Regions from separate parts of the Homo sapiens genome. Here all the other regions are linked to region 3. The links come from fine-mapping of genetic effects on gene expression. A gene starts in region 3. Each other region holds a variant in brackets. All regions are shown on one strand. Distances are from middle to middle. Region 1 has its middle 23 kb from the start of ACHE. Region 2 has its middle 20 kb from the start of MUC3A. Region 3 holds the start of SRRT (serrate, RNA effector molecule).

Evidence for each region. PIP is the estimated chance that this variant, and not a neighbour inherited with it, causes the effect.
Region 1: its variant is the best candidate, but not a certain one, in a credible set for the expression of SRRT in sun-exposed skin (GTEx, PIP 0.50).
Region 2: its variant is the best candidate, but not a certain one, in a credible set for the expression of SRRT in esophagus mucosa (GTEx, PIP 0.61).

Annotation. Positions count from the first base shown.
Region 1 is chr7:100,913,533-100,923,465 of GRCh38, forward strand. No RefSeq gene overlaps it. Among named protein-coding and RNA genes, the nearest start is that of ACHE, 23 kb to the left of the region's middle. RefSeq lists an enhancer at 3,252-3,361. The variant A/C (reference allele first, on the strand shown) is at 4,851.
Region 2 is chr7:100,924,138-100,934,070 of GRCh38, forward strand. It overlaps the pseudogene RPS29P15. Among named protein-coding and RNA genes, the nearest start is that of MUC3A, 20 kb to the right of the region's middle. RefSeq lists enhancers at 3,344-4,301, 4,302-5,258, 9,274-9,775. The variant A/G (reference allele first, on the strand shown) is at 4,048.
Region 3 is chr7:100,869,723-100,879,655 of GRCh38, forward strand. SRRT (serrate, RNA effector molecule) reads left to right here and starts at 5,381. Exons shown (of 20, transcript NM_015908.6): 1 at 5,381-5,606; 2 at 5,851-5,990. The coding sequence starts at 5,869. TRIP6 (thyroid hormone receptor interactor 6) reads left to right here. Exons shown (of 9, transcript NM_003302.3): 5 at 648-741; 6 at 852-1,021; 7 at 1,821-1,999; 8 at 2,902-3,022; 9 at 3,450-3,732. The coding sequence ends at 3,581. RefSeq lists enhancers at 4,266-4,930, 4,931-5,596, 5,173-5,222, 5,433-5,492 and a silencer at 5,633-5,862.

The sequences.
Region 1 (9,933 bases), 44 kb after region 3:
ATAAAAAAGGACACTGGGTTTTGTGCCTCTACAATGTAGGTTCTAACTTTAACCTTTCAAAAAATGCACTAGGCCAGGCGTGGTGGCTCACGCCTGTAATACCAGCACTGTGGGAGGCCAAGGTGGGAGGATTGCTTTAGGCCAGGAGTTTGAGACCAGCCTGGGCAACATAATGAGACCCCTGCCTCTACAAAAAAAATTAAAAAAAAAGTTAGCCAGGCATGGTGGCGAATGGCTGTTGTCCCAGCTACTCTGGAGACTGAGGCAGGAGGATTGCTTGACCCCTGGAGGTTGAGGCTACAGTGAACCATGATAGTGCCACTGCACTTCAGCCTGGGTGACAGAGGGAGACCCTGCCTCCAAAAAAAAAAAAAAAAAAAAGAAGGAGCCCCATCCTACATACCAGATGCCAGACAACATCACCCCAAAATCTCACTGCTGTAGATGCCATCATCTCAGACGACATCACCCCAACCCAGGGCCTTGACACTAGAGATGACTTCACCCCTTACGCTAAACCTTCACTCCTTGGGTGGTAAACCTAGGTCACGCCCATGGATTCACCTCTCCTAAGACACAAATGGACATAGGACATTTTTACTTTTCTTTCTGAACTCCCTGCCTGCATAGGCTATGATCTTAGTACGCTGCTTGCTCTCTGCTCACATCCATCCCTAAAAGAAACTCTGGCCATGTGCAAGCCAATCTGGAAGCCATGCCAGTGTGTGACAGCATCATTACACTCTGCTCTAGGTCCAGAGTTGATCTGTTCCCTTGGCGCCACCCTAGGCGGTGGAGTGGGTGGCTGTGCATGGGATTTCAGGTCAACTGGGTGCCTTCATATGCTTCAACTGTTTACGCTCATCCAAGGCCTTACTCAGCATGGCACGTAGCCCAGACTTCTCTGATAGCCTTTAATATCCACACCATTCGAACGGTACCCGTTGGAATATGCACAAGGTCTCACGCCTAGGTCAGTGGTATTAGGAACAACAGACCAAAGGTTGCTGGCTAGACTTTAGAAGTAGATCACCACATCCACATGGGCCAAGCTGGTAGCCAGAATATGAACTTAAAGGCGCCTCTCTCACCCAGCAGGCTGGGCTCCCTGCATTCCCGCCACTTCCTTTATTTTTATTTATTTATTTATTTATTTATTTATTTATTTATTTATTTTGAGATCGAGTCTCGCTCTGTTGCCCAGGCTGGGGTGCAATGGTGCGATCTCAGCTCACTACAACCTCTGCCTCCCAGGTTCAAGCGATTCTCCTGCCTCAGTCTCCTGAGTAGCTGGGACTATGGGCGCAAGTGACCAGGCCTGGCTAATTTTTATATTTTTAGTAGAGATGGGGTTTCACCAGGCTGGCCAGGTCTCGAACTCTCTACCTCCACGAGGTTCTTTCTTTCTTTCTTTCTTTGAGAGAGTCTTGCCCTGTTGCCCAGGCCTCGAACTCCTGACCTCAAGTCTCAAACTCTTCTCTTCAAGTGATCCACCCGTCTCGGCCTCTTGGCCTCCCAAATTGCTGGGATTATGGGCATGAACCACCGCGCCCAGCCCCCACCACTTTCTTTAAGTGGAGCATTTAGACATCTGCCCTTGAACTTCAAGTGACTGGCACTGTATTCCCCTCTCTATATATGTACTGCTAGTTGCCACATGCTCTCTCCACTCGACTCTACTCCTATTCTCTCTTTCTCTACTTGACCTGGGGATGGAGGACTGTTCTCCTAACTCATGGTGCCCTCCTGACTCATGGTGTTTTCCCAACTCATGGTGCCCTCCTGACTCATGGTGCCCTTCCTGCCTAGGAGGCCCTTATTTATTGTCTGTAAAAAATCTCTGGGGCCAGGCACAGTGGCTCATTTCTTTAATCCCAGCACTTTGGGAGGCCAAGGCAGGAGGATCACTTGAGCCCTGGAGTTCAAGACCAGCCTGGGCAACATGGTGAGACTCCATCTCTTTTTTTTTTTTTTTTTGAGATGGAGTCTCACTCTGTCGCCCAGGCTGGCGTGCAGTGGCACGACCTCAGCTCACTGCAAGCTCCACCTCCTGGGTTCACACCATTCTCCTGCCTCAGCCTCCCGAGTAGCTGGGACCACAGGCGCCCGCCACCACACCTGGCTAATTTTTTTGTATTTTCAGTAGAGACGGGGTTTCACTGTGTTGGCCAGAATGGTCTCGATCTCCTGACCTCGTGATCCGCCCGCCTCGGCCTCCCAAAGTGCTGGGATTACAGGCGTGAGCCACTGCACCCGGCCGGTGAGACTCCATCTCTATAAAATAATAATAATAAAAAGAAATCTTTGAACTTGTTTCCTATTGTGATGGTGTCAGAAGCATTTGAACCAGAGCGACCCCATCTTGAGTAGGGACTGGGTAGAATGGGCTGAGACCTGCTGGGCTGCATCCCAAGAGGTTAGGCGTTCTTAGTCACAGGATGAGATAGGATGTAGGTTACAAAGACCCTGATAAAACAGGATGCAATAAAAAAAATGCCAGCCATGGCCACGTGCTTTGGCTCACATCTGTAATCCCAGCACTTTGGGAGGCTGAGGCGGGCGAATCACAAGATCAGGAGTTCGAGACCAGCCTGGCCAACATAGTGAAACCCTATCTCTACTAAAAGTACAAAAAATTAGCCGGGCGTGGTGGCGGGCCCCTGTAATCCCAGCTACTCAGGAGGCTGAGGCAGGAGAATCACTTGAACCCGGGAGGTGGAGGCTGCAGTGAGCTGAGATTGTGCCATTGCACTCCAGCCTGGGCGAAAGAGCAACTCCGTCTCAACAAAAGCCGGCCAAAACTCGCCAAAACCAAGATGGCAACAAGAGTGACCTCTGGCTGTCCTCACTGCTCATAATATGCTAATTATAATACATTAGCTTGCTAAATGGCACTCCCACCAGTGCTGTGACTGTTTGCAAATGCCATAGCAATGCCCAGAAGTTACCCTATATGGTCTAAAAGGGGGAGGAATTCTCAGTTCTGGGAAATTCCTACCCCTCTTCTGGAAAACTCATGAATAATCCACCCCTTCTTTAGCATACGATCAATAAATAACCATTAGAAAATAGCCAACCAACAAAACAAACAAACTAATAAAAAAAGAAGAACAAACAATAAAAAACAAAACGAAACAAAAATGGCCAACCAGCAGCCATCGGGGCTGCTCTGTCTATGAAGCAGCCATTCTCACGTTTTTTCACTTCTGTAATAAACTTGCTTTCACTTCACTCTGTGGACTCACTCCAATTTTTTTATTTTTTTATTTTTTTTATTTTTTGACGGAGTCTCGCTCTGTCACCCAGGCTGGAGTGCAGTGGCATGATCTCAGCTCACTGCAAGCTCCGCCTCCTGGGTTCATGCCATTCTCCTGCCTCAGCCTCCCGAGTAGCTGGGTCTACAGGCATGCCTGTCACCACGCCCGGCTAATTTTTTGTATTTAGTAGAGACGGGGTTTCACCGTGTTAGCCAGGATGGTCTCGATCTCCTGACCTCGTGATCCGCCCGCCTCAGCCTCCCAATGTGCTGGGATTACAGGCGTGAGCCACTGCGCCTGGCCCTTCCAAATTCTTTCTTGCACAAGATCCAAGAACCCTCTCTTGCGGACTGAATTAGGACCTGTTTCCGGTAAAAGTGCTTTCCTGAATTTTCAACTTCCATCTGAAGAACTAGGGGAAATCTGAGGCTGGGTTTTCCCTGGGGCGCCTGGGGGAACATAAGATTGGGCTCCCAGAGCCAGAGAGACCATCCAGCAGGCATAAACTGGACGTGGTGGGTCACACAAAAGCCACGAGGTGTCTGCCAGTATAAGCAAGTTTCCCAAGTAAGGGACCTTTAGGGATCCCTAAGCATTAGGCCATCCATTAGGTAAATAAGTATCCTGTGAAAAGCCCGCTGTGAACACTACACCCAGCTTCCCTTCATTTCTCCTTAAAGCAGGTTTGCTAGCCGCTCTGCTACTGAGACCCTCATGTAGCTCTCAAAGCAGGGTGTCTTTCCATGTTCTTGCTCGCCCCGCTCCCCAGTAGCTTGGGCCTGCCGTGGCTGGTTATGTTAGAGTAGGTATCTAGGCAGACATGAGGAGGGTAGGAGAGGATGCCCCATTCCCTTCCCCAGTAATGTCAAGTGACAAATAGGTGGTGGTCAAGTGGTTGTTAAACTGTCTTTCTGAAATAATAATTGGTTGTAGCTGGCGCCAGGGAAAGGTGGTTTCCCAATAGACAGAAAACACCTGAGGCTGGTGATAAGCAGCTTCCTGATAAGATCTCAGGAGTTGGGTGAGTGGGCTCAAGCATGTGCACTAAGAGGCAACATGGCAGAGTTTAAGTGGTATTTCTTTTTTGTTTTGTTTTTGATGGAGTCTTGCTCTGTCGCCCAGGCTGGAGTGCAGTGGAGTGATCTCGGCTCACTGCAATCTCCAACTCCCAGGTTCAAGGGATTCTCCTGCCTCAGCCTCCCAAGTAGCTGGGATTACAGGTACACACCACAACGCCCAGCTAATTTTTTTTTTTTATTTTTAGTAGAGACGGAGTTTCACCATGTTGGCCAGGATGGTCTTGATCTCTTGACCTCATGATCTGCCTGCCTCAGCCTCCCAAGTGTTGGGATTACAGGTGCGAGCCACCGCGCCCGGCCCCAGCTAGTTTTTATATTTTTAGTAGAGGGGGGTTTCACCATGTTAGCCAGGCTGGTCTTGAACTCCTGACCTCAAGCAATCCTCCTGCCTTGGCCTCCCAAAGTGTTGGGATTACAGGCGTGAGCCACTGCACTTGGCCAACAGATCTATGTCTTCCCAGGAACCCTCAGCTGGTAGGGGAAGAACGCCTCAAACGAGCATGTGCACAACTTC[A/C]GTAAATATACTGTTCCCACCCCAAGGGAAAATCAAGGGAGAAGAGACGCAACCCCCGGAACCATGCCAATGTATAAAACCCCAAGTCAGGGGCTCAACAGTGCACTTGAATCTCTCAAGTTGCCTGCTTGGCCCTCTTCCAAGTGTACTTTACTTCCTTTCTTTCCTCTAAAACTTTTTTTAAAAATTTATATTAATTAATTATTTTTGAGACAGAGTCTTGCTGTGTCATCCAGGCTGGAGTGCAGTGGTGTGATCTCAGCTCACTGCAACCTCTGCCTCCTGGGTTCAAGTGATTCTCCTGCCTTAGCCTCCCCAGTAGCTAAGATTACAGGCGCCCGACACCACGCCTGGCAAATTTTCGTATTTTTAGTAGAGACGGGGTTTCGCCATGTTGGCCAGGCTGGTCTTGAACTCCTGGCCTCAAGCAATCCGCCCATCTCAGCCTCCCAAAGTGCTGGGATTATAGGCATGAGCTGTCCCGTGCCCGGCCTCGTTCCTGTTCTAAAACTTTTTAATAAACTCTGACTCCTGCTCAAAAACTTGCCTCAGTCTCTCACTCTGCCTTATGCCCCTCAGAGGAATTATTTCCTTCGAGGAGGCAAGAATTGAATTGCTGCAGACCCGTGTGGATTCGCTGCTGCTAACAAAAGAAGCAACCCATGAAAGGGACACTGCAAACACCATGTCCTTCATTTCCCATTAAAGCAGGGTTACTAGCTGCTCTGCTACGGAAACCCCCATTTAGTTGGGGGCTTTCAAAGCAAGATCTCTTCCCATGTTCTTGCTTTCCTCACCCTGCCAACAGCTTGGGACTGTTCTTGTGGGTTACTTGGTGTGAGGCTCATGGTAGAGGTGTTACAGGAAAGGAGTCCCAATCCAGACCCTTCAAGAGAGGGTTCTTGGATTTTGCATAAGAATTCAGGGTGAGTCCGTAAAGTGAAAGCAAGTTTATTAGGAAAATAAAGAAATAAAATAATGGCCTTTCCATAGACAAAGCAGCCCTGAGGGTGGCTGGTTGACCATTTTTATGGTTGTTTCTTGATGACATGCTAAACAAGGGGTGGATTATTCATGCCTCCTCTTTTTAGACCATATAGCGTAATTTCCTGACGTTGCCATGGCATTTGTAAACTGTCATGGCGCTGGTGGGAGTGTAGCAGTGAGGACGACCAGAGGTCACTCTCTTCACCATCTTGGTTTTGGTGGGTTTTGGCCGGCTTCTTTACTGAAACTAAGGGAGGAGACCACCCTTCATATTGTCTTATGCCCAATTTCTGCCTCCAAAGAAAGAAGAAGTAAAAACTAAAAGGCAGAAATGAAATCCACATTTCATTTCTAAAAGACAGCCCAGTGCCACACACTGGGCCTGGTTGTTAAAGATTGACCCCTGACCTAATTGGTTATGTTATCTATAGATTACAGCTATTGTATAGAAAAGCACTGTGAAAATCCCTGTCCTGTTCCATTCTAATTACCGGTGCATGCAGCCCCCAGTCACGTACCCTCTGCTTGCTCAATCAATCACGACCCTCTCATGCAGACCCGCTTAGAATTGTGAGCTCTTAAAAGGGACAGGAATTGCTGACTCAGAGAGCTCGGTTGTTGGAGACGTGAGTCTTGCTGAAGCTCCTGGCTGAATAAAGCCCTTTCTTCTTTAACTCAGTGTCTGAGGGGTTGTGTCTGCGGCTTGTCCTGCTACAAAACCTGTTTCATCAGCAAGGTCTTTATGACCTGTATCTTGTGCCGACCTTCTATTTCATCCTGTGACTTAGAATGCCTTAACCATCTGAGAATGCACCCAGTAGGTCTCAGCCTCATTTTACCCAGTTCCTATTCAAGATGGAGTTGCTCTGGTTCACCTGCCTCTGACAGAGGCATGGTATTCCATTTCTTCAGGGCTAGTCTCTGTCTCAGGCAAGTTTTTTGCTCCTGGGTCTTGGGGATGGAATTTCTCAGCATATCTGTCCTTCCTCGTGGCAGCCAAACTTTTCCTTTTGTCTTTGGGTTGGTGGGGGTTTTGGCAGGACAGAATTTCTCATCCCTACTCCCATGGTGGCTGACCTCTCTGTATCTGTGCAGGCTTCTGAGTGCAAGCAGCTGTCCTCCCCTCCACCAGGGCACTCAGCTTTGCCTCTAGTTCTTCTTCAGCAGCAGCTAGCTTGGAAAGGAGAGCAGGAGGATGTGTAACCACCTGAGAGGTTCTTCTTGCCTGCTGCGTAAAGAAACACCATGGCATTGTAGTAGAGAAAGAGTTTAATAGACACAAGGCTCGCCATGCCACATGGGAGATGGAGTTAGCATTCAAATCATCTTGTCCAAAGCTTGTATGTTAGGGGTGTCATGGGAAAACGACAGCTGGTGGTGTGGGGTAAAAGAATTTGTGAAGACAGTTGTAAGTAAAGGAAGCCAAATTTATTAGACAAAGTAGGAAAATACACTGCCAGAGAGATAACGGGCTACCAGCAGAAGAGAAACTGACTGCAAAAAACAAAGACTCGCTGGAGATTTTATAGGGTAGTGTTTATGCTCTCTGTTGAAGAGGGCTTTATGTAGTACTGATAACATCAAAGTTGCAGTGAGCTAACTTACAGGTGTCTGGTGATAGCTGGGTGCAGGAAAGGTTGTAAGTTACTTGTGCAGGAGGGCTGTGTGTCCTGGATCATGAAGAAAGACAGACTTGTTGCTTATCTGCTTTCTCTTTTTGCTTTCTCTTGGTTCCACCAGCCTGGTTCCCTTTCCCTAATTAGGACTCCACAAAGGGATGAGGGTGGCCAGGTAATAGGTGCTTGCTGCTGATTGGTTGGGGTGGAGATGAAATTCTGCCTCCTGCAGGCAGAATTGCTTCTGGGCAGGGCCACAGGGGTGGGTTTGGTGGGGGATTCAGGTGGGTTCAGGTGGAGCCATGGATGTCTGACATGCAAAAATCCTGAAAAGACATCTCAAAAGGCCAATCTTAGGACTCAAGCTCCTCTCCTCCAAGCCTGATGGTCTCCCATTGGCTTTACAAAAGGCTTTGGGGAGGAGAGGAGTTTCAGGGCAAGGCCTGTTATCATTTAAATGATAACCTAAAATGTCTTCCAAAGTTAGCTTGGCCCAATAGCCCCCAAATAATCAAGGGAAAGGCAAGGTGGTGCAGGTGGAGGGTGTTAACTCTGCTTACTATTATAATTTTTCTCAGTGATAAAATTTTCACAAAGGCAGTTTTAGGTAGACTACTGATCACTGTCAACTGATGTGTTGACAAAAAGAGTTAAACTCTAAAATATTTAAAGAGATTTATGCTGAGCCAAATATGAGTGACCAAGGCCCATGACATAGCCCCTAAAAGTCCTAAGAACAGGTGCCCAAGGTGGTTGGTTTACAGCTTTTATACATTTTATTTTATTTTATTTTAGGCAGAGTCTCACTCTGTTGCCCAGGCTGGGGTGCAGTGGCACTCACTGCAACCTCTGCCTCTCAGGCTCAAGCAATTTTTGTGCCTCAGCCACCCAAGTAGCTGGGATTACAGGTGTGCATTACCATGTCTGGCTAATTTTTGTATTTTTATTGGAGATGAAATTTCACTATGTTGGCTAGGCTGGTCTCGAACTCCTGGCTTCAACTGATCCTCCTGCCTTGGCCTCCCAAAGCGCTGGGATTACAGGCATGAGCCAGCACCCCTGGCCAATTTTTTTTTTTGAGAGGGAGTCTTTCTCTGTTGCCCAGGCTGGAGTGCAGTGGCACAATCTCAGCTCACTGTAACCTCTGCCTCCTGGGCTCAAGTGATCTCCTGCCTCAGCCTCCTGAGTAGCTGGGATTACAGGTGCCCACCACTATACCCGTTAATTTTTGTATTCTTAGTAGAGATGAGGTTGCACCATGTTGGCCAGGCTGGTTTCAAACTCCTGACTGTCAGGCCTCTGAGCCAAAGCTAAGCCATCATATCCCCTGTGACCTGCACGTATACATCCAGATGGCCTGAAGTAACTGAAGAATGACAAAAGAAGTGAAAATGGCCTTTTCCTGCCTTAACTGATGACATTACCTTCTGAAATTCCTTTTCCTGGCTCATCCTGGCTCAAAAGCTCCCCCACTGAGCACCTTGTGATCCCCACCCCTGCCCACCAGAGAACCCCCCTTTGACTGTAATTTTCCTTTACCTACCCAAATCTTAAAAAATGGCCCCACCCCATCTCCCTTCGTTGACTCTCTTTTCGGACTCAGCCTGCCTGTACCCAGGTGGTTAAAAAGCTTTATTGCTCACACAAAGCCTGTTTGGTGGTCTCTTCACACGGACGTGAGTGAAATTTGGTACCGTGACTCAGATCGGGGGACCTCCCTTGGGAGATCAATCCCCTGTCCTCCTGCTCTTTGCTCCATGAGAAAGATCCACCTACGACCTTGGGTCCTCAGATTGACCACCCAAGGAACATCTCACCAATTTTAAATCGGGTAAGTGGCCTTTTTTCACTCCCTTCTCCAACCTCTCTTAGTATCCCTCAACCTCTTTCTCCTTTCAATCTTGGTGCCACACTTCAGTCTCTCCCTTCTCTTAATTTCAGTTCCTTTCCTTTTCCGGTAGACACAAAGGAGATGCATTTTATCCATGAACCCAAAACTCCGGCACTGGTCACAGACTCAGGAAGAGAGTCTCCCTTGGTGTTTAATCACACGGGGATGCCTGCCTGATTATTCACCCACATTTCAGAGGTGTCTGACCATGTGGGGATGCCTGCCTTGGTCCTTCACCCTTAGTGGAAAGTACCGCTTTTCTGGGGGGCAAGAACCCCCTGACCCCTTCTCTCTGTGTCTCTACCCCTTTTCTGCTTTTCTAGGGGGCAAGAATCCCCCAACCCCTTCTCTCCGTGTCTCCACCTCTTCTCCACTTTTCTGAGGGGCAAGAACCCCCTGAACCCTTCTCTCCATGTCTCTACCCCTTCTCCACTTTCCTAGGGGGCAAGCACCCCTGACGCCTTCTCTCTATGTCTCTACTCTCTCTTTTCTCTGGGCTTGCCTCCTTCACTATGGGCAGCCTTCCACCCTCCATTCCTCCTTCTTCTCCCTTAGCCTGTGTTCTCAAGAACTTAAAACCTCTTCAACT
Region 2 (9,933 bases), 54 kb after region 3:
AGGTCAAAAGGTCATCTTATTCTCAATATACATTTTATTATCCAATCCACTCCTGACATTAAATAAAACTCCAAAAATTAAATTCTGGCCCTCAAACCCCACAACAGGACTTAATTAACCTCACCTTCAAGGTGTACAATAATAGAGTAGAGGCAGCCAAGTAGCAATGTATTTCTGAGTTGCAATTCCTTGCCTCCATTGTGAGACAAACCCCAGCCACATCTCCAGCACATGAAAACTCCAAATGCCTGAACCGCAGCTGCCAGGGATTCCTCCAGAACCTCCTCCCCCAGGAGCTTGCTACAAGTGCCAGAAATCTGGCCACTGAGCCAAGGAATGCCCACAGTCCAGGATTCCTCCTAAGCTGTGTCCCATCTGTGTGGAACCCCACTGAAAATTGGACTGTTCAACTCACCTGGCAGCCACTTCCAGAGCCCCTGGAACTCTGGCCCAAGGCTCTCTGACTCCTTCCCAGATCTTCTCAGCTTAGTGGCTGAAGACTGACACTGCCCGATCGCCTTGGAAGCCTACAGGACCATCACAGACGCTCTAGGTAAGTCTCACAGTGGAGGGTAAGTCCGTCCCCTTACTCAATTCGGAGGCTACCCACTCCACATCACCTTCTTTTCAAGGGCCTGTTTCCCTTGCCTCCATAACTGTTGTGAGTATTGACAGCCAGGCTTCTAAACCTCTTAAAACTCTCCAACTCTGGTGCCGACTTATACAACATTCTTTTATGCACTCTTTTTTAGTTATCCCCACCTGCCCAGTTCCCTTATTAGGCTGAGACATTTTAACTAAATTATCTGCTTCCCTGACTGTTCCTGGACTACAGCCACACCTCATTGCTGCCCTTTTCCCCAGTTCAAAGCCTCCTTTGCATCCTCCTCTCATATCCCCCCACCTTAACCCACAAGTATAAGATACCTCTACTCCCTCCTTGGTGACCGATCATGCACCCCTTACCATCCCATTAAAACCTAATCACCCTTACCCCGCTCAATGCCAATATCCCATCCCACAGCACGCTTTAAAAGGATTAAAGTCTGTTATCACTCGCCTGCTACAGCATGGCCTTTTAAAGCCTATAAACTTCCCTTACAATTCCCCCATTTTACCTGTTCTAAAACCAGACAAAACTTACAGGTTAGTTTGGGATCTGCGCCTTGTCAACCAAATTATTTTGCCTATCCACCCCACGGTGCCAAACCCATATATTCTCCTATCCTCAATACCTCCCTCCACAACCCAATATTCTGTTCTGGATCTCAAACATGCCTTCTTTACTATTCCTTTGCACCCTTCATCCCAGCCTCTCTTCGCTTTCACTTGGCCTGACTGACACCCATCAGGCTCAGCAAATTACCCGGGCTGTACTGCCTCAAGGCTTCACAGACAGCCCCCATTCCTTCAGTTGAACCCAAATTTCTTCTTCATCTGTTACCTATCTCAGCATAATTCTCATAAAAACACACATGCTCTCCCTGCTGATCGTTTCCAACTGATCTCTCAAACCCCAGCACCTTCTACAAAACAACAACCCCTTTCCTTCCTAGTCATGGTTAGATACTTTTGACTTTAGGTACCTGATTTTGCCATCCTAACAAAACCATTATATAAACTCACAAAAGGAAACCTAGCTGACCCCATAGATCCTAAATCCTTTCCCCACTCCTCTTTCCATTCCTTGAAGACAGCTTTAGAGACTGCCCCCACCCTAGCTCTCCCTGACTCATCCCAACCCTTTTCATTACCCACAGCCGAAGTGCAGGGCTGTGCAGTTGGAATTCTTACACGAGAACCCACACTGCGCCCTGTAGCCTTTTTATCCAAACAACTTGACCTTACTGTTTTGCCTAGCCCTCAAGTCTGCGTGCGGCGGCCGCCACCACCCTAATACTTTTAGAGGCCCTTAAAATCACAAACTATGCTCAACTCACTCTCTACAGTTCTCATAACTTCCAAAATCTATTTTCTTCCTCACACCTGACACATATACTTTTTACTCCCTGGCTCCTTCAGCTGTACTCTTTGTTGAGTCTCCCACAATTACCATTGTTCCTGGCCCGGACTTCAATCTGGCCTCCCACCTTATTCCTGATACCACACCTGACCTCCATGACTGTGTCTCTCTGATCCACCTGACATTCACCCTATTTCCCCATATTTCCTTCTTTCCTGTTCCTCACCCTGATCACACTTGGTTTATTGATGGCAGTTCCACCAGGCCTAATCACCACACACCAGTAAAGGCAGGCTATGCTATAGAACAAGCCACTATCCCACCTCTTAGAACCTCTCCTTTCCTTTCCATCATGGAAATCTATCCTCAAGGAAATAACTTCTCGGTGTTCCATCTGCTATTCTACTACTCAGGGATTATTCAGGCCCCCTCCCTTCCCTACACATCAAGCTCAGGGATTTGCCCCCACCCAGGACTGGCAAATTGGCTTTATTCAACATGCCCCGAGTCAGGAAACTAAAATACCTCTTGGTCTAGGTAGACACTTTCACTGGATAGGTAAAGGCCTTTCCCACAGGGTCTAAGAAGGCCACCACGGTCATTTCTTCCCTTCTCTTAGACAAAATTCCTCGGTTTGGCCTTCCCACCTCTAGTCCTATAATGGACTGGCCTTTATTAGTCAAATCACCCAAGCAGTTTCTCAGGCTCTTAGTATTCAGTGAACTAATGGTCTTTTAAAAACACACCTTACCAAGCTCAGCCACCAACTTAAAAAGGACTGGACAATACTTTTACCACTTGCCCTTCTCAGAATTCAGGCCTGTCCTCACAATGCTACAAGGTACAGCCCAGTTAAGCTCCTGTATAGACACTCCTTTTTATTAGGCCCCAGTCTTATTCCAGACACCAGACCAACTTAGACTGTGCCCCCAAAAACTTGTCATTCCTACTATCTTCTGTCTAGTGATACTCCTATTCACTGTTCTCAACTACTCATAAATGCCCTGCTCTTGTTTACACTGCCAGTTTACACTGTTTCTCCAAGCCATCACAGCTGGTATCTCCTGGTGCTATCCCCAAACCGCCTCTCTTAACTCTTAAAGTAAATAAATAATCTTTGCTGGCAAGGCTGTGCTGAACCTCCTTAGGCACTCTAATTAGATGTCCTAGGTCCTCCCAATTCTTAGTCCTTTGATACCTGTTTTTCTCCTTCTCTTATTCCATTTAGTTTTTCAATTCATACAAAACCATATCCAGGCCATCACCAGTAATTCTACACGACAAATGTTTCTTCTAGCAACCCCACGATATCACCCCTTACCACAAAATCTTCCTTCAGCTTAATCTCTCCCACTCTAGGTTCCCACGCCGCCCCTAATCCCGCTCGAAGCAGCCCTGAGAAACATCACCCATTATCTCTCCATACCACCCCCCAAAATTTTCGCCGCCCCAACACTTTACCCCATTTCATTTTATTTTTCTTATTAATATAAGAAGACAGGAAAATCAGGCCTCTGAGCCCAAGCTAAGCCATCATATCCCCTGTGACCTGCACGTATAAATCCAGATGGCCTGAGGTAACTGAAGAATGACAAAAGAAGTGAAAATGGCCTGTTCCTGCCTTAACTAATAACATTACCTTCTGAAATTCCTTTTCCTGGCTCATCCTGGCTCAAAAGCTCCCCCACTGAGCACCTTGTGACCCCCACCCCTGCCCACCAGAGAACAACCCCCCTTGGACTGTAATTTTCCTTTACCTACCCAAATCTTATAAAACCCCGCTCTCCCTTCACTGACTCTCTCTTCACTGACCACCCCTCTCTCCCTTCACTGACTCTCTTTTCGGACTCAGCCCGCCTGCACCCAGGTGATTAAAAGCGTTATTGCTCACACAAAACCTGGTGGTCTCTTCACACGGACTCAAGTGAAACTGACCTCAAGTGATCCGCCCACCTCAGCCTCCCAAATTGCTGGAATTACAGGTGTGCGCCCCTGCGGCCAATTTTATACGTTTTAGAGGGATGGAAGTTACAGGCATACGTCAATCAATACGTGTAAAGTGTACATTTGTTCACTCAGGAATC[A/G]TGGAACAATTTGGGGTGTGGGGCAGGGGGACTTCCAGATCATAGGTAAATTCCAAGATTTTCTGATTGGAAATTGGTCGAAAGAGTAAAGTTATGATCTAAAGACCTGGAATCAACAGAAAGGCGTGTCTGGTTTAAAAATAAGAGGTTGTGGCCTTTTACCTTGTTGCACTTCTGAGAGCAAGATGGGTCACCAGCAGCTGTACTAGAGCCACCAGTGAATATTCGGCCAGGGTTTTCATTCTTGTCACATCGGCCCAAATCGGCATGGTCTGATCTGTAAATATGCCCTCAATATGTACTGCCAGTGTTTCCGTCAGTACAGGAAAGATATCGGTTTCATTAAGTTGCACTAACTGACCTTCCTTGAAAGGTTTATCCAACGCATGTACCCAGTGAAAAACCATGATAGTGGCCGGGCACGGTGGCTCACGCCTGAAATCCCAGCACTTTGGGAGGCCAAGGTGGGCAGATCACAAGGTCAGCAGATCGAGACCATCCTGGCCAACATGGTGAAACCTCGTCTCTACTAAAAATACAAAAATTAGCTGGGCGTGGTGGCATATGCCTGTAATCCCAGCTACTCAGGAGGCTGAGGCACGAGAATCACTTGAACCCGGGAGGTGGAGTTTGCAGTGAGCTGAGATAGCGCCACTGCACTCCAGCCTGGCAACAGAGCAAGACTCCGTCAAAAACAAACAAACAAACAAAAAAAACCCCAAAAAACCATGATAGCTCTTTGCACATAAAATAAACATTTTTTAAAAAGATAAGGGGTTGTGGAGACCACCTGTTTTTTTTTGACAGAGTCTCGCTCTGTTGCCCAGGCTGGAGTACAGTGGCGCAATCTTGGTTCACCGCAACCTCCACCTCCCGGGTTCAAGTGATTCTCCTGCTTCAGCCTCCCGAGTAGCTGGGACTACAGGTGCACACCACCACACCTGGCTAATTTTTTGTATTTTTAGTAGAGACAGGGTTTTTCCATGTTAGCCAGGATGGTCTGGATCTCCTGACCTTGTGATCTGCCCACCTCGGCCTCCCAAAGTGCTGGGATTACAGGCATGAGCCAAGACCAAGGTTCTTGTTATGCAGATGAAGCCTCCAGGTAGCAGGCTTCAGAGAGAATAGATGGTAAGTGTTTCTCATCAGACTTAAAAAGGTGCCAGACTCTTAGTTATATCTCTCCTGAATCAGGAGAAGACCTGGAAAGGGAAGGGGACTCTCTACACAGTGTAGATTTTCCCTACAAGAGACAGATTTGCAGGGCTGTTTCAAAATATGTCAAAGAAAAATTTATTTTGGGGTAAAATACTTCTGTTTCTTTCAGGACCTGCTATCTGTCATGTGATGCTGTACTTCAGTCAGGTTGGAATTTGGTATCTTATTGCTACAAAGAGTCTGTTTTGTCAGCCTTAAGATCTCTGTGTTGATGTTAATGCTGGTCAGTTGTGCCTGAATTCCAAAGAGATGAGGGCAGAATGAGGCATGTCCAACACTCCTTCCCATCATGGCCTGAACTAGTTTTGCAGGTTTACTTTGGAATGCCCTTGGCGAGAAGGAGTCCGCTCAGTAGGTTGGGGGGCTTAGAATTTTCTTTTTGGTTTACAGGTGCAAAGCTTGTGATTTAGCCAGGAGATTTCCTGCCCCTCCCAAGGGGGCAGATTTTGCTTCAACCCTCCCTCACCATGTAATGAGGGGCTGGTCCTATCCCTCCCCCAGAAATACATGGCCTTACTTGTACCCTTACTTCCACCAGGAGTGAACCTTTGCCTGTCCTCAGGGGATGGGAAGGATTCCTGCCCCTTCCCCTGAGGCTTAAGTCCTTCTGCTTCTTGTGAGACAAGGTTCTGGGAGGTAGGAGGGGGTTCATGCCTGAGAACCACTGAGGGAGCCTCTTTCTTGTCTCATTGTACCTCCAATCTTTCTCATGAGCACCAAGAGGTGGAAAAGAGATTGCGAGTGAACTTGGGGTCTGCTAGATCCTGATGCACCCAGGGGGATTCTAAGTTGTCATGCTGGCCCACTCCTGGCCTCTGAGAATTCATTAAAATGTTGTTTTCCTATCACCTGCTTTTTTGGTGGCCACTTCTTCCTCCTGTGCTCTGACAAAGGTGGAACTTTTCATGTGTCCTGTCTCTCCTGAGAGGGTGCGGTCACTCTTTGGACCTCAGTTCACCTGGTTGCCTTGAAGCCTAAATTTCTGATGGGCTCAAGAAATGCCAAAACCTATAGATTACCCAGCTTTTTCTTCTTTTTATGGTAGGAGTGATAGTCTCTTGTGGATTTATTTTATGTATTAATTTTATTGCACTTTTTGTAGAGATGGGGGCCTTGCTAGGCTGCCCAGGCTGGTCTTGAGCTCCTGGCCTCAAACGATCCTCCTGCCTTGGCTTCTCAAAATGCTGGGATTACAGGTGTCAGTCACCATGCCCAGCCTCTTGTGGCTTTTTTACTCTAAGTGAAAGCATAAATCCAATAATTTTTATTTTTATTGTTATTGTTTGGAGATGAGTCTCACTCTGCCACGCAGGCTGGAGTGCAGTGGTACAATCCCGGCTCACTGCAACCTCTGCCTTCCAGGTTCAAGTGATTCTTCTGCCTCAGCCTCCTGACCAGCTGGGATTACAGGCACATGCCACCACGCCTGGCTAATTTTGTATTTTTAGTAGAGATGGAGTTTCACCATGTTAGCCAGGCTAGTCTCAAACTCCCGACCTCAGGATCTGCCCACCTCGGCCTCCCAAAGTGCTGGGATTACAGGCGTGAGCCATTGTGCCCAGCAAAAATCCAATAATTTTTAATAACTCAAAATATGATTTTGACTACGTAAATTTTTTTTTTTCCCTTTGTCCCTCTTTGTAATTTGATGCTTTGGTATCTCAGTTCTAGTTTTTGATTTGGCTCCAGGTAGTACAAGTTCTCATGGATTACATGTATGGTTTAGAATCCTGAAGTCAATGAGATGAGAGCAGACCTAACATCAAACACTTGAAGTAAAGAAATTTATGTGGAAGGAATATATAAAATGAGTTTACATTGGGTAGTTTGGATAAAGCATAACATTAGAGAAGGGTACATGTAGCTAGATGTGTCTTTACCTTTAAAAAAACTTGAATATTGAGGCTGGGTGCAGTGGCTCATGCCTGCAATCTTAGCACTTTTGGAGGCCAAGACGGGCGGATCACTTGAGGTCAGGAGTTTGAGACCAGCCTGGCCAACATGGTGAAACTATTTTTAGTCTCTACTAAAAATACAAAAATTGGCCAGGCATGGTGGTGCATGCCTGTAATCCCAGCTACTCAGGAGGATGAGGCAGGACAATCACTTAAACCTGGGAGGTGGAGGTTGCAGTTAGCTGAGATGGCACCACTGCACTCCAGCCTGGGCAAAAGAATGAGACTCAGTCTCAAAAAACAAACAAAAGAACCCAACAAACTTGAATAGCGAAAGGAGGATATTTTGATATGTTATTTCCATTTTCAGTAATAAATACATGTGTGTATCCAATAACTTATTAAAATGTAGATTTGTTTATTGAAAAACTTATTAGCATGAGGTCAGGAGATCAAGACCATCCTGGTTGACACAGTGAAACCCCATCTCTGCTAAGAAAGTACGAAGGAAAATTAGCTGGGTGTGGTGGCAGTGGTAGGCGCCTGTAGTCCGAGCTACTCAGGAGCCTGAGGCAGGAGAATGGTGTGAACCCGGGAGGCGGAGGTTGCAGTGAGCCGAGATCGTGCCACTGCACTCCAGCCTGGGTGACAGAGAGAGACTCCATCTCAAAAAAAAAAAAAAAAAAACAAACAAACTTATTAGGAGGTTTTAGTGGCAGATTAGACAGAGCTGAAGAGAGAATCTGTAAACTGAGAGAACAGAAGAAACTCACCACATGCTTCATGAGCAGCTATGAGACAGAAAATACGGAAGAGTAGTTAAAAACACATGAAGAATAGAAAGGGAAGGGTTAACCTCTATTTAATTGCAGTTCCTGGAGAAAAGAGTTAACGGGGGAAGAGAAAATATGTGAAGAGAGAATGGCTGGCAAGTTTCCCAAACTGAGAAGAGACCTTATCAGCTTTGAGAAGCCAAGGAATCCCAAGCATGATAAATACAAAGAAATCCATGCCCAGAAACATCCTGGTGAAGCTTCAGAATATTAACGAAACAGAAAGTCTTAAAGCAGCAAGAGAAAAAAAATTAAAGGCCTGACAGATTAAGCTCAGTCTTCTGTATAGCAACCTTGAAGCCGGAAGACAATGGAATCTTATTCATGTGCTGAAAAAAAAAAAAACTGTCAACTTAGAATTCTATACCTAGTAAAAATACTTTCAAGAGGCCGGGTGCGGTGATTCACACCTGTAATCCCAGCACTTTGGGAGGCCGAGGCAGGCAGATCATGAGGTCAGGAGTTTGAGACCAGCCTGGCCAACGTGGTGAAACCCCGTCTCTACTAAAATACAAAAAAATTAGCCGGGGTTGGTGGTGCATGCCTGTAGTCCCAGCTACTTGGGAGGCTGAGGCAGGAGAATCACTTGAATCTGGGAGGTAGAGGCTCACCATCTACCCGGCTAATTTTTTTGTATTTTTAGTAGAGACGGGGTTTCACCACGTTGGCCAGGCTGGTCTCGAACTCCTGACCTCATGATCCGCATCCCCCCTCCCCCCGCGGCCTTCGAAAGTGCTGGGATTACAGGCGTGAGCCACCGCACCCAGCTCAATGGCTGAACTTTTAGCTTCATTTTAGCAGAGTTCAGACACCCCCATAATCCTAATCTTGTGAGTTGTCATTAGTTTTACAAAGGCAGTTTGGTCCCAGAACAAACAGGTGGTAGTTTTGGGAAGGGCTATTATCATCCTTGCTTTAAGTTTAAACCATAAATTAAATTCCTCCCCAAGTTAACCTAGCCTATGCCCAGGAATGAACAAGGACAGTTTAGAGGCTAGAAGCAAGAAGAAGTCAGCTAGATTACATTATTTTACTGCCATCATTTTCCTGTGTCGGGTCTTACTCACTGTCATAATTTCTTTTTTCTTTTTTTTTAAAGACAGAGTCCTACTCTGTCACCCAGGCTGGAGTACAGTGGGGTGATCTCGGCTCACTGCAACCTCTACCTCCCAGATTCGAGTGATTCTCCTGTCTCAGCCTCCTGAGTAGCTGGGATTACAGGCACCTGCCACCATGTCCGGCTAAGTTTTAGTAGAGACGGGTTTTGCCATGTTGGCCAGGCTGGTCTCGAACTCCTGACCTCAAGCACTCCACCTACCTTGGCCTCCCAAAGTGCTGGGATTACAGGTGTGAGCCACTGCACCCGGCCTCTGTCATAATTTTTGCAAAGGCGGTTTCAGTGGGGTCTCCAAACCACTCTCCTTGGCCAGGTTACCAGTTTCCCACCTGGGCACAGTGGGTTAGGGTCCTGGGGGTTGGTCCTCCCAACTCCAGTGTCTTCTGGTACCATCCTCCCTCCTTGCAGCAAATATAGTGTCTGTGGTCCAACTCTGGAGTTACTGTGGCCAGAGGCTCTTAGTTACCAGATTAACTGTCCCTTCCCCACTCCTTTCCCCACCAACCATCTGCTTCTGTACCAGCTACCTGGCTAGGAGGATTTCTACCTCCCCCTACCTAGGGGTCTGGCCCTGTGGTAAGACTGCACCCACCCGTGAAGCCACGCCCCATCCAGGAAACCACACCCACTCAAGAAGCCCTGCCCACCCAAGAAGCCCCACCTGCCAGCAAGCCACAGCCATCCAAGAAACCCCACCCATCCAGGGAGCCCTGCCCAGCCCATCAGATGGTCCCACTCACCCATGAAAGCCACTGCCGAGGTATTCACAGCCCTGCTGCTATTCGGCCTGCCCATCAGGAGCCAGTCCACAGAACTCCATTAA
Region 3 (9,933 bases):
ACCTTCAGAGACATTATAGCAGTCCCCAATCTTTTTGGCACCAGGGACCAGTTTTGGGGAAAACAATTTTTCCATGGACTGGGGAGGGGGATGGGAGGGGGTGGGAGGGGGATGGTTTCAGGATGATTCAAGCACATTACATTCATTGTGCACTTTATTTCTGTTATAATAATAATAGAATATATAGTATATATAATTGTTTCGGTATATATTACAATGTATATTACAATGTAATATATACCGAAACAATTATACAATTCACCATCATGTAGGATCAGTGGGAGCCCTGAGCTTGTTTTCCTGCAACTGGACAGTCCCATCTGGGGGTGATGGGAGACAGTGACAGATCATCAGGCATTAGATTCTCATAAGGAGCTTGCAACCTACATCCTTCGAACACACAGTTCACAATAGGGTTCATGCTCCTATGAGAATCTAACGCCGCTGCTGATCTGACAGGAGGTGGAGCTCAGGCGGTAATGCAAGTGATGGGGAGCAGCTGTAAATACAGATGAAGCTTTGCTTGCCCATTGCTCAGCTCCTGCTGTGTGGCCCAGTTCCTAACAGGCCATGGCCTGGCGGCTGAGGGCCCTGGTATTACAGCATCAGGAGCTAGAGTAGGACCGAGCCCGATTCCCACCTTCCAGGTGCCCCTGAGCCAGCCTCCAGAGGATGAGCTGGATAGGCTGACGAAGAAGCTGGTTCACGACATGAACCACCCGCCCAGCGGGGAGTACTTTGGTGAGCTGAGGCTGTGGGGTGGGTGGGACGTGGGAAGGGAGGCTGGGAGACAGAGGGGACAGTGGCTTCCTGGGTCTGTGAAGACTGATGCTGTTTCTCCCTGTCCTCAGGCCAGTGTGGTGGCTGCGGAGAAGATGTGGTTGGGGATGGGGCTGGGGTTGTGGCCCTTGATCGCGTCTTTCACGTGGGCTGCTTTGTATGTTCTACATGCCGGGCCCAGCTTCGCGGCCAGCATTTCTACGCCGTGGAGAGGAGGGCATATTGCGAGGGCTGCTACGTGGTGAGTGGCTGGGGCTGGGAGGAGGGAGTCAGTGGCTGGATGCAGGGGGCTTCCATCCAAGGTGGTAACTAGAGCGTCCAAGACCAAAGGAGGAACGGTGCTAAAAGCCAGGCGACTGAAAGTGATGTACAAACAGGGCGGAATTCTGCAAGTATCAAGCAAGTAGCTTAACACTGGTGGCTGAAGGGAAGGACGCAGCTCTTACAAGTGTGGAGCATCTTACAGTTAAAGAGAATGTGTTAGATTCCCATGACACCCCTGTGAGGCAGGTATTACTACTGATTCCTGGTTTTGTTTTTTGTTTTTTTTTGAGACAGTCTCGCTCTGTTGCGCAGACTGGAGTGCAGTGGGGTGATCTCTGCTCACTGCAACCTCAGCCTGCCCTGGTTCAAGCGATTCTCATGCCTCAGGCTCCCGAGCAGTTGGGATTACAGGTGCCCACCACCACACCCAGCTAATTTTTGTATTTTTAGTAGAGACAGGGTTTCGCCATGTTGGCCAGGCTGTTTTGAAACTCCTGGCCTCAAGCAGTCCGCCCACTCTGGCCTCCCAAAGTGCTGGCATTACAGGCGTGAGCCACTGCACCCAGCCTGATTCCTGTTTTTCTCATAGTGTTTAAATACCGTGTATAGTGCTGGGACCTGAACTCAGATCTGCTCAAGTCTGCCTTTCACCGAATCACATGCAGGAGGCTGCATGCAGGAGGCTGCAGAAATTAGATGGCTGGGTTGCTGGGGTTCCTGTTGAGCTGCCATGGCTCCCGCCCGCTCCCAGATCTTCCTGCCTTCCTTCCCAACAGGCCACCCTGGAGAAATGTGCCACGTGCTCCCAGCCCATCCTGGACCGGATCCTGCGGGCTATGGGGAAGGCCTACCACCCTGGCTGCTTCACCTGCGTGGTGTGTCACCGCGGCCTCGACGGCATCCCCTTCACAGTGGATGCTACGAGCCAGATCCACTGCATTGAGGACTTTCACAGGTCAGGCCTGGCCTCCACCTTGTCTCACAATGTCTGACCTTTCCTGTCTCTCTCATCTCTTCATGCCCCAGGACTGTCTCTTCCTGTTTCCAACCCTGGCCCTCCTTCGTTCTTTGTTATTGTTATTTTTTAGAGACGGAGTTTCACTCTGTTGCCCAGGCAGGAGTGCAATGGCATGATCATAGCTCACTGCAGCCTCCAACTCCTGGGCTCAAGTGATCCTCCTACCTCAGCCTCCTGAGTAGCTGGGACTACGGGTGCACACGCCACCATGCCTGGCTAGTTTTCTTCGTTTTTTTTTTTTTTTTTTTGAGATGGAGTCTCACTCTGTCACCCAGGCTGGAGTGCAGTGGCACGATCTCAGCTCACTGCAACCTCCACCACCTGGGTTCAAGTGATTTGCCTGCCTCAACCTCCCCAGTAGCTGGGATTACGGGCGCATGCCACCACGCCTGGCTAGTTTTTTTTTTTTTTTTTTTTTTTGTATTTTTAGTAGAGACAGGCTTTCATCATGTTGGCCAGGCTGGTCTCAAACTCCTGAGCTCAAGCGATCCACCTGCCTCGGCCGCCCAAAGTGCAGGGATAGCAGGCGTAAGCCACTGCACCCAGTCTTCTTCTTTGTATTTTAATAAAGACAGCGTCTTGCTGTGTTGCCTAGGCTGGTCTTGAACGCCTGGCCTCAAGTGATCCTCCTGCCTTGGCCTCCCAAAGTCGGGGGATTGCAGGCTAGAGCCACTGCACCTAGCCTCTCTCATTCTCTTTGACATCGTCCCTTCCCCAAGACCTAAGGCCATACCTCTGGCCTCTCTGATTCCCTCCTGTGCCCCACCTTCTCTGGGTTCCATTGTTGGTGCCCTGCAACCCCAAGGCTTGATGGCCTTCTTGGTTCTCTTCCCCTGCAGGAAGTTTGCCCCAAGATGCTCAGTGTGCGGTGGGGCCATAATGCCTGAGCCAGGTCAGGAGGAGACTGTGAGAATTGTTGCTCTGGATCGAAGTTTTCACATTGGCTGTTACAAGTGCGAGGTCAGGGGCCCCCAGCACGTGCAAGGGGCTGGCAGTGTCTAGGGTGCTGGGTAGAGCATGAGGGGGAACACAGAGGTCTGGGGTTGATGGAAACCTGTTGCTTCTTTCTTTTTTTTTTTTTTTTGAGACGGAGTCTTGCTCTGTTGCCCAGGCTGGAGTGCAGTGGCACAATCTTGGCTCACTGCAACCTCCACCTCCCGGGTTCAAGTGATTCTCCTGCCTCAGCCTCCTGAGTAGCTGGGATTACAGGTGCTGGCCACCATGCCTGGCTAATTTTTGTATTTTTAGTAGAGACAGGGTTTCACCATATTGGCCAGGCTGGTCTTGAACTCCTGACCTTGTGATCCTCCTGCCTCGGCTTCTCAAAGTGCTGGGATTACAGGCGTGAGCCATCGCGCCCGGCCAATTGTTGCTTCTTTTTCAACAGGAGTGTGGGCTGCTGCTCTCCTCTGAGGGCGAGTGTCAGGGCTGCTACCCGCTGGATGGGCACATCTTGTGCAAGGCCTGCAGCGCCTGGCGCATCCAGGAGCTCTCAGCCACCGTCACCACTGACTGCTGAGTCTTCCTAGAAGTACCTGCTGGGTTCTCAGTTCCAGTTCCCATCCTTTGATTGATCACTCTCCCTGACATCCACCTGTATGACTTTGTCACCAAATGCTGTCTTCTCTTTCTCCAATCAAGAAATAATAATCCCTCGAGTTTACAAAACACTTCCAAGTCTGTTGTCTCATCTGATTCTCCCAGTAGCCCATTACAGGCCCAGTCATTGTTACTGCCTGCATTTTTTTTCTTTTTTTTTTGAGACGGAGTCTGGCTCTGTCACCCAGGCTGGAATGCAGTGGTGCCATCTCGGCTCACTGCAACCTCTGCCTCCCAGGTTCAAGTGATTCTCTTGCCTCAGCCTCTTGAGTAGCTGGGATTACAGGCGCCCGCCACCACGTCTGGCTAATTTTGTATTTTTAGTAGAGACGGGGTTTCACCACCTTGGTCAGGGTGGTCTTGAACTCCTGACCTCAAGTGATCTGCCCGCTTCACCCAACCAAAGTGCTGGGATTACAGGCGTGAGCCACCGCCCTTGGCCACTGTCTGCATTTTTACATGTGAGGATGTCAGAGCTGAGAGGTGACTCCCCCAGATTGCATGGTTCTTAAATGGTGGAACCTGGGTCTTTTTGACTCAGGTCCAGTTTTTTTTGACAACTCTTGTAATCCGTCACTACCCTCCTCTCAGTGCTGGGAGCAAGCACGCCTCAGGGAGGAGGCAAGATTTCCTCTATGTATCTATTTTGAGACAGGGCCTCACTCTGTTCCCCAGGCTAGAGTGCAGTGGTGCAATCAAGGCTCACTGCAGCCCTGAACTCCTGGGCTCAAACAGTCCTCCTGGCTTAGCCTCCCCAGTAGCTAGGACCACAGGGGCATCCCACCAAGCCCAGTTATTATTTTTTTGTGTGTAGATGGGATCTTGCTATGTTGCCCAGGCTAGTCCTGAACTCTTGGGCTTAAGTCCTCCCTCCTCGACCTTCCCAAGTGCTGGGATCACAGGTGTGAGCCAATGTGCCTGGCCCTAAATATTCTGTAAAGGGGCCTTGCTATGTTGCCCAGGCAGGTCTCCAACTCCTGGGCTCAAGTGATTCTCCCACGTCGGCCTCCCAAAGCGCTGGGATTGCAGGCGTGAGCCATCTCAGCTGGTCTTCCTATTAAGTCTCACACTCAATTCACTGAGAGGGGCCTTGGTGTTACTCCCGGGGGTGGTAATCCATTGAATCTGGGCGGTCCATACTCTGTTTAGGGCGTTAACTTACAGCCTATTTCATCCAAATACTGAGCGGGGTTAAGACTGAGATCTGCCAATTTTACTTAAAGACGGGGCGTCTTTGTCGAGGAAAAGCAGGAACGGCGGACTTTGCATTTAGTGCGCACTGTGGCACCCAATTTTGGCTGGATATTTGGAGCAGAAAATGGTGGGATACGATGCTTTAAAATGGTTGCTTCCACCTTCCATCCCCTAAGCGCCCGCGCTTCCCAAGCCCACGCCCTGCCCGAGGAGGGGACGAAATCACCCCCGGTGAGGTCAGGAGGCCCGTGGGGGGAACATGGCTGGATGAGAACCGTCTTAGGACCCCGACACATCTGGGGTCGCGCGATCCTCGACTTCCGCTCTCCCTTCGCGCCCAGAGGGCTTGTTCGCCTCCCGAGGCCGCGCTTGGCCCAGCCGAGGTCCCGTAGTTCCTAACGCTCGAGCCGTTATCGTCTCGAAAAGCCGCGCGAGACTTGCGAGATCCCCGCCCCTTTCCCATCACGCCCTGCTCTCCCCGCCCTTCGCGCTCGGTTTGTTAGTTCCAGTTCCGGCCGCGAGGGTGGAGCTTTGTGCCTCGGAGGCGTGGGTGACGCAGGCGCAGCGCGGGCTGCGCGCGCTACTGCCCATCCCCGGTTGTCCCACTTTTGTTCGCCTCTCTTCGGCCCTCTACTCAAGAGCTCCGTCTCCGTCTCGCCCTCCTCGAAGTCCTCGTCGCGCGCCCGCGACCCAGGTCGCCCTGAAATCTAGCCCGTCCGAGCGCGAGTCCAACGGCCGCGGCCGCACCAAGGTGGGGGAGGGGAGGAGCCTGGGGGGCCCCGCTGGGGCGGGAGAGGAACCGGGGTCCACGGGGGCGGGCGCGGAGAAACTCGGGGCGAGTGGAGGTGTTGGAGCCGCGTTCTCAGGCCTAGGATGGTGGGGGCCGCGGAGGGCTGGCCTTGGCGGGAGGGAAGCGGGCGAGCTGCCCGCGAGGGACGGTCCCTTCCTCCGCTCGTCCTTTTGCACCACTCCTACCGCCTCTCCCCGGTCCCCAGGCCCCCTCAGACCGTGCCATGGGTGACAGTGATGACGAGTACGATCGAAGGCGCAGGGACAAGTTCAGAAGAGAGCGCAGCGACTACGACCGTTCCCGCGAGAGAGATGAAAGACGTCGAGGGGACGATTGGAATGACAGGTGAGCCGTTTTTAACTTCATCTTGTCCCCGTTTCATGCCGTTTCACTCCACCCGCGTCGCTTTTCTTTCTCCCCCTTGTAATTTTTATGAGGGCGAATCCTATGAAATGGCTCATTGGACCGTTTTCTGTGGTTCAGCCTATTTGCTGTTGGCCAAATAACTAGCTGTGGCTTGGTTTTTGAAATTCTCTGCAGATCAGAGCTATAGAGCTAAGAGTTTGAGTATGAAGAAGCACTGTTTATACATGCACGAAAAGCGTGCTTTTTTGCTTTTTTTTGTTTTGTTATTGAGATGGGGTCTTGTTCTGCTGCCCTGGCTGGAGTGCATTGATGCAGTCGTAGCAGCCTCCACCTCCCGGGCTCAACCGAGCCTCCCGCCTCAGCCTCTTGAGAAGCTGGGACTCCAGGGGGAGGCCATCACGCCCGCCTAACTTTTAAAAATTATTATTGTTATTTCGAGACAGAGTCTTGCCCTGTCGCCCAGGCTGGAGTGCAATGGCGCAATCTTGGCTCACTGCAACCTTCGCCTCTGGGGTTCAAGTAATTCTCCTGCCTCAGCCTCCCGAGTAGCTGGGATTACAGGCACCTGCCACCACGCCCGTCTAATTTTTGTATTTTTAGTAGAGACGGGGTTTCACCATGTTGGCTAGGCTGGTTTGGAACTCTCGACTTTAGGTAATCCACCCAGCTCGACCTCCCAAAGTGCTGGGATTACAGGCATGAGCCAGTGCTTGGTCTAAAATTATTTTTTGTAGAGACAGCGTCTTGCTCTGTTGCCCAGGTTGTAAATTATATTTTAGGAGGATTGCTTCAGAAAAATAATAATATAGAGTTGATCTGACTGGAGAGGTCGTCAGATTATTTCCCTGACAATATATGATTAGGTTTCTTGTCACTGTTTTGCCTAAAATCTCAGAGTTCATAGGGCGGTGCTGATTGGATTGATTATAAGATGTGGTTATTGACCTTAGGGTGTTACAGTGAGCTTGGCATGGGGGATCAGAATGGCAGTGGATGTATTCTGTAAATGAGTATATATAGTGGAAGTTATAAAGAGGGTAAGCATTGAGGGAACAGATCTCTAAAGGAGGGGAGCGGTGCTGGAGGTTGTGTGTCAGGGACCCACTGGAAAGTGACACTTGGCTAGACTTGGAAAGATGAGTGGGAATTCCCCAGACACGAGTGACATGAACAGCTTGGAGTTGTGGACATAACGTGTGATTTTAGCATATTCTAGTTTGGTTAGAGTCCTGTTTCTCAGGATGTCCACAGACCATAGGGGGTCTCCGAGGCTAAAATTAGTTTTTGTGGTAATGTTTACATATTATTGCCATTTCCACTGTTGGTGCCATAGCAATGATGGGTAAAACCGCTGATGCTTTACCAAACATCAAGGCAGTGACAGCAAAGAGTTAAAAAAAAAAAGCCAGCCGGGCCCAGTGGCTCACACCTGAAATCCCAGCACTTTGGGAGGCCGAGACGGGCAGATCACGAGATCGAGAGATTGAGACCATCCTGGCCAACATTGTGAAACCCTGTCTCTACTAAAAATACAAAAGTTAGCCAGGCATGGTGGTGCGCGCCTGTAGTCCCAGCTACTTGGGAGGCTGAGACAGGAGAATTGCTTGAACCCAGGAGGCACAGGTTGTAGTGAGCTGAGATCACACCCCTGCACTCCGGCCTGGCGACAGAGCAAGACTCTGTCTCAAAAAAAAAAAAAAAAAAAAAAGCCACTTCCATCAATGATTCTTGATGAAAGAGTAAAACATTTAAATTTGATTAGATTGGACTCTTGACTGTACGTCTTTTTTAAAAAAATTTTTTTTTGACACAGAATCTTGCTCTGTCACCCAGGCTGGAGTGCAGTGGGGCGATCTCAGCTCACTGCAACCTCCACCTCCTGGGTTCAAGTGATTCTCCTGCCTCAGCCTCCCGAGTTGCTGGGATTACAGGTGCGTGCCACTCTGCCTGGCTAATTTTTGTATTTTTAGTAGAGATGGGGTTTCACCATGTTGGCCAGCTGGTCTTGAACTCCTGACCTCACATATCCACCTGCTTCGACCTCTCAAAGTGCTGGGATTACAGGCCCGCGTTAGTTGTCTTGAGCAAGAGTACGCATGTGATTGAGTGAGCTGAACTAACAGCTTTTTTCCATGGGATGTTATTTTTACTTGAATGAATGACAAACAGTGATTGTTCATACTTGGGTATTTGGCAGACATCTTGAAAATGAACTGAGAACCTGTTACTTCAGTGTAAGCTGTTGGTATTTGTTGCCAGTGATGAAGTAGAACTTTCCAGTGAAAATTAAAATTTTGGGCCGGCGCAGTGGCTCATGCCTGTAATCCCAACACTTTGGGAGGCGAAGGTGGGTGGATTGCTTGAGCCCAGGAATTTGAGACCAACCTGGGCAACGTGGTGAAACCTGTCTGTACAAAAAAATACAAAAATTAGCTGGGGGTGGTGGCACATGCCTGTAGTCCCGGCAACTCCGGAGGCTGAGGCGGGAGGATGGCTTGAGCCTGGGAGGTGGAGGTGGGAGTGAGTCTTGATGGCACCACTGCATTCCAACCTGGGCAACAGAGAGATACCCTGTCAAAAAAAAAAAAAGGAAATTAAAATTTTGGAAAACTTCTACTAATGTGAGCTTGACAGCTTCCCATTAAGTAAAGACTTTCTTGGTGAGATAGGCAGTGATGCTGATGAGTACATTTTGATATTGGGTGAGACATAATCCAGGTCCATTGAAAGGGAAAGATAGAACAGTGGATTTTAATGCAGCAGAGAAAGAAATATTCACTGATACTATTTCAGATTGAAGGTTCTAACTAGCCTGTGAGAAACTACTTCCTTCTTGGACAAGGTAGCATAAAGAAAAGAAAAAAAAGAACCTACCTCTTGTTGAATTTTGGGTAGTATCCAAAATGAATATCTACAGTTAATCTGAAAAGGCCTTTCCAACTCCTTATCAGTATGAGGCCTGATTTTCTGTTTTTTTTTTGAGACGGGTCTTACTCTGTTGCCCAGGTTGGAGTGCAGTGGCACGATCATGGCCACAGATCACTGCAGCCTTGACTTCCCCAGGCTTAGGTGATCCTCTCACCTCAGCCTCCTGATTAGCTGGGACTACAGGTGTATGCCATCACACCCAGCTAACCTACTTTCTTCCTTCCTTCCTTTTCTTTTCTTTTCCTTTCTTTTCTTTTCTTTTCCTTCCTTTCTTTCTTTTTCTTTCTTTTCTTTCTTTCTTTCATTCTTTCTTTCAGATGGAGTCTCACTCTGCCCAGGCTGGAGTATAGTGGCGTGATCTGGGCTCACTGTAACCTCCATCTTCCGGGTTCAAAACGATTCTCCCACCTCAGCCTCCCGAGTAGTTGGGATTACAGGTGCCTGCCACCACGCCCGGCTAATTTTTGTGTATTTAGCAGAGACAGGGTTTTGCCATGTTGGCTAGGCTGGTCTCAAACTTCTGACCTCAAGTGATCTGCCTGCCTTGGCCTCCCAAAGTGCTAGGATTACAGGCATGAGCTACCACTTCCAGCCAGCCAGCTAAGTTTTGTATTTTTAGTAGAAAGGTGGTTTCACCATGTTGCCCCAGCCTGGTCTTGAACTCCTGGGCTCAAGCAATCCACTGCTTCGGCCTCCCAAAGTGCTAGCATTCATTACAGATGTGAGCCACCATGCCCGGCCTGCCTCATTTTTCAAGCAGAACAAAATATCTCAACAGATTCAGTGTAGAAGCTATCCTCTACAAAGCCAGAACTTGGAGAGATTGGTGACAATGTAAAAACAATGCCACTTTTTCTCACCAAAATTTTTCTGGAAAACGATTTTTCATAAAAACATGTAATGTGTTTCATCTTACTGTGTAATTTAAAAATGAAGGTTTTGGAACATTTCGTTTTAATTTTGAATATAGTAAGTATCGATAGATGTAACCCAC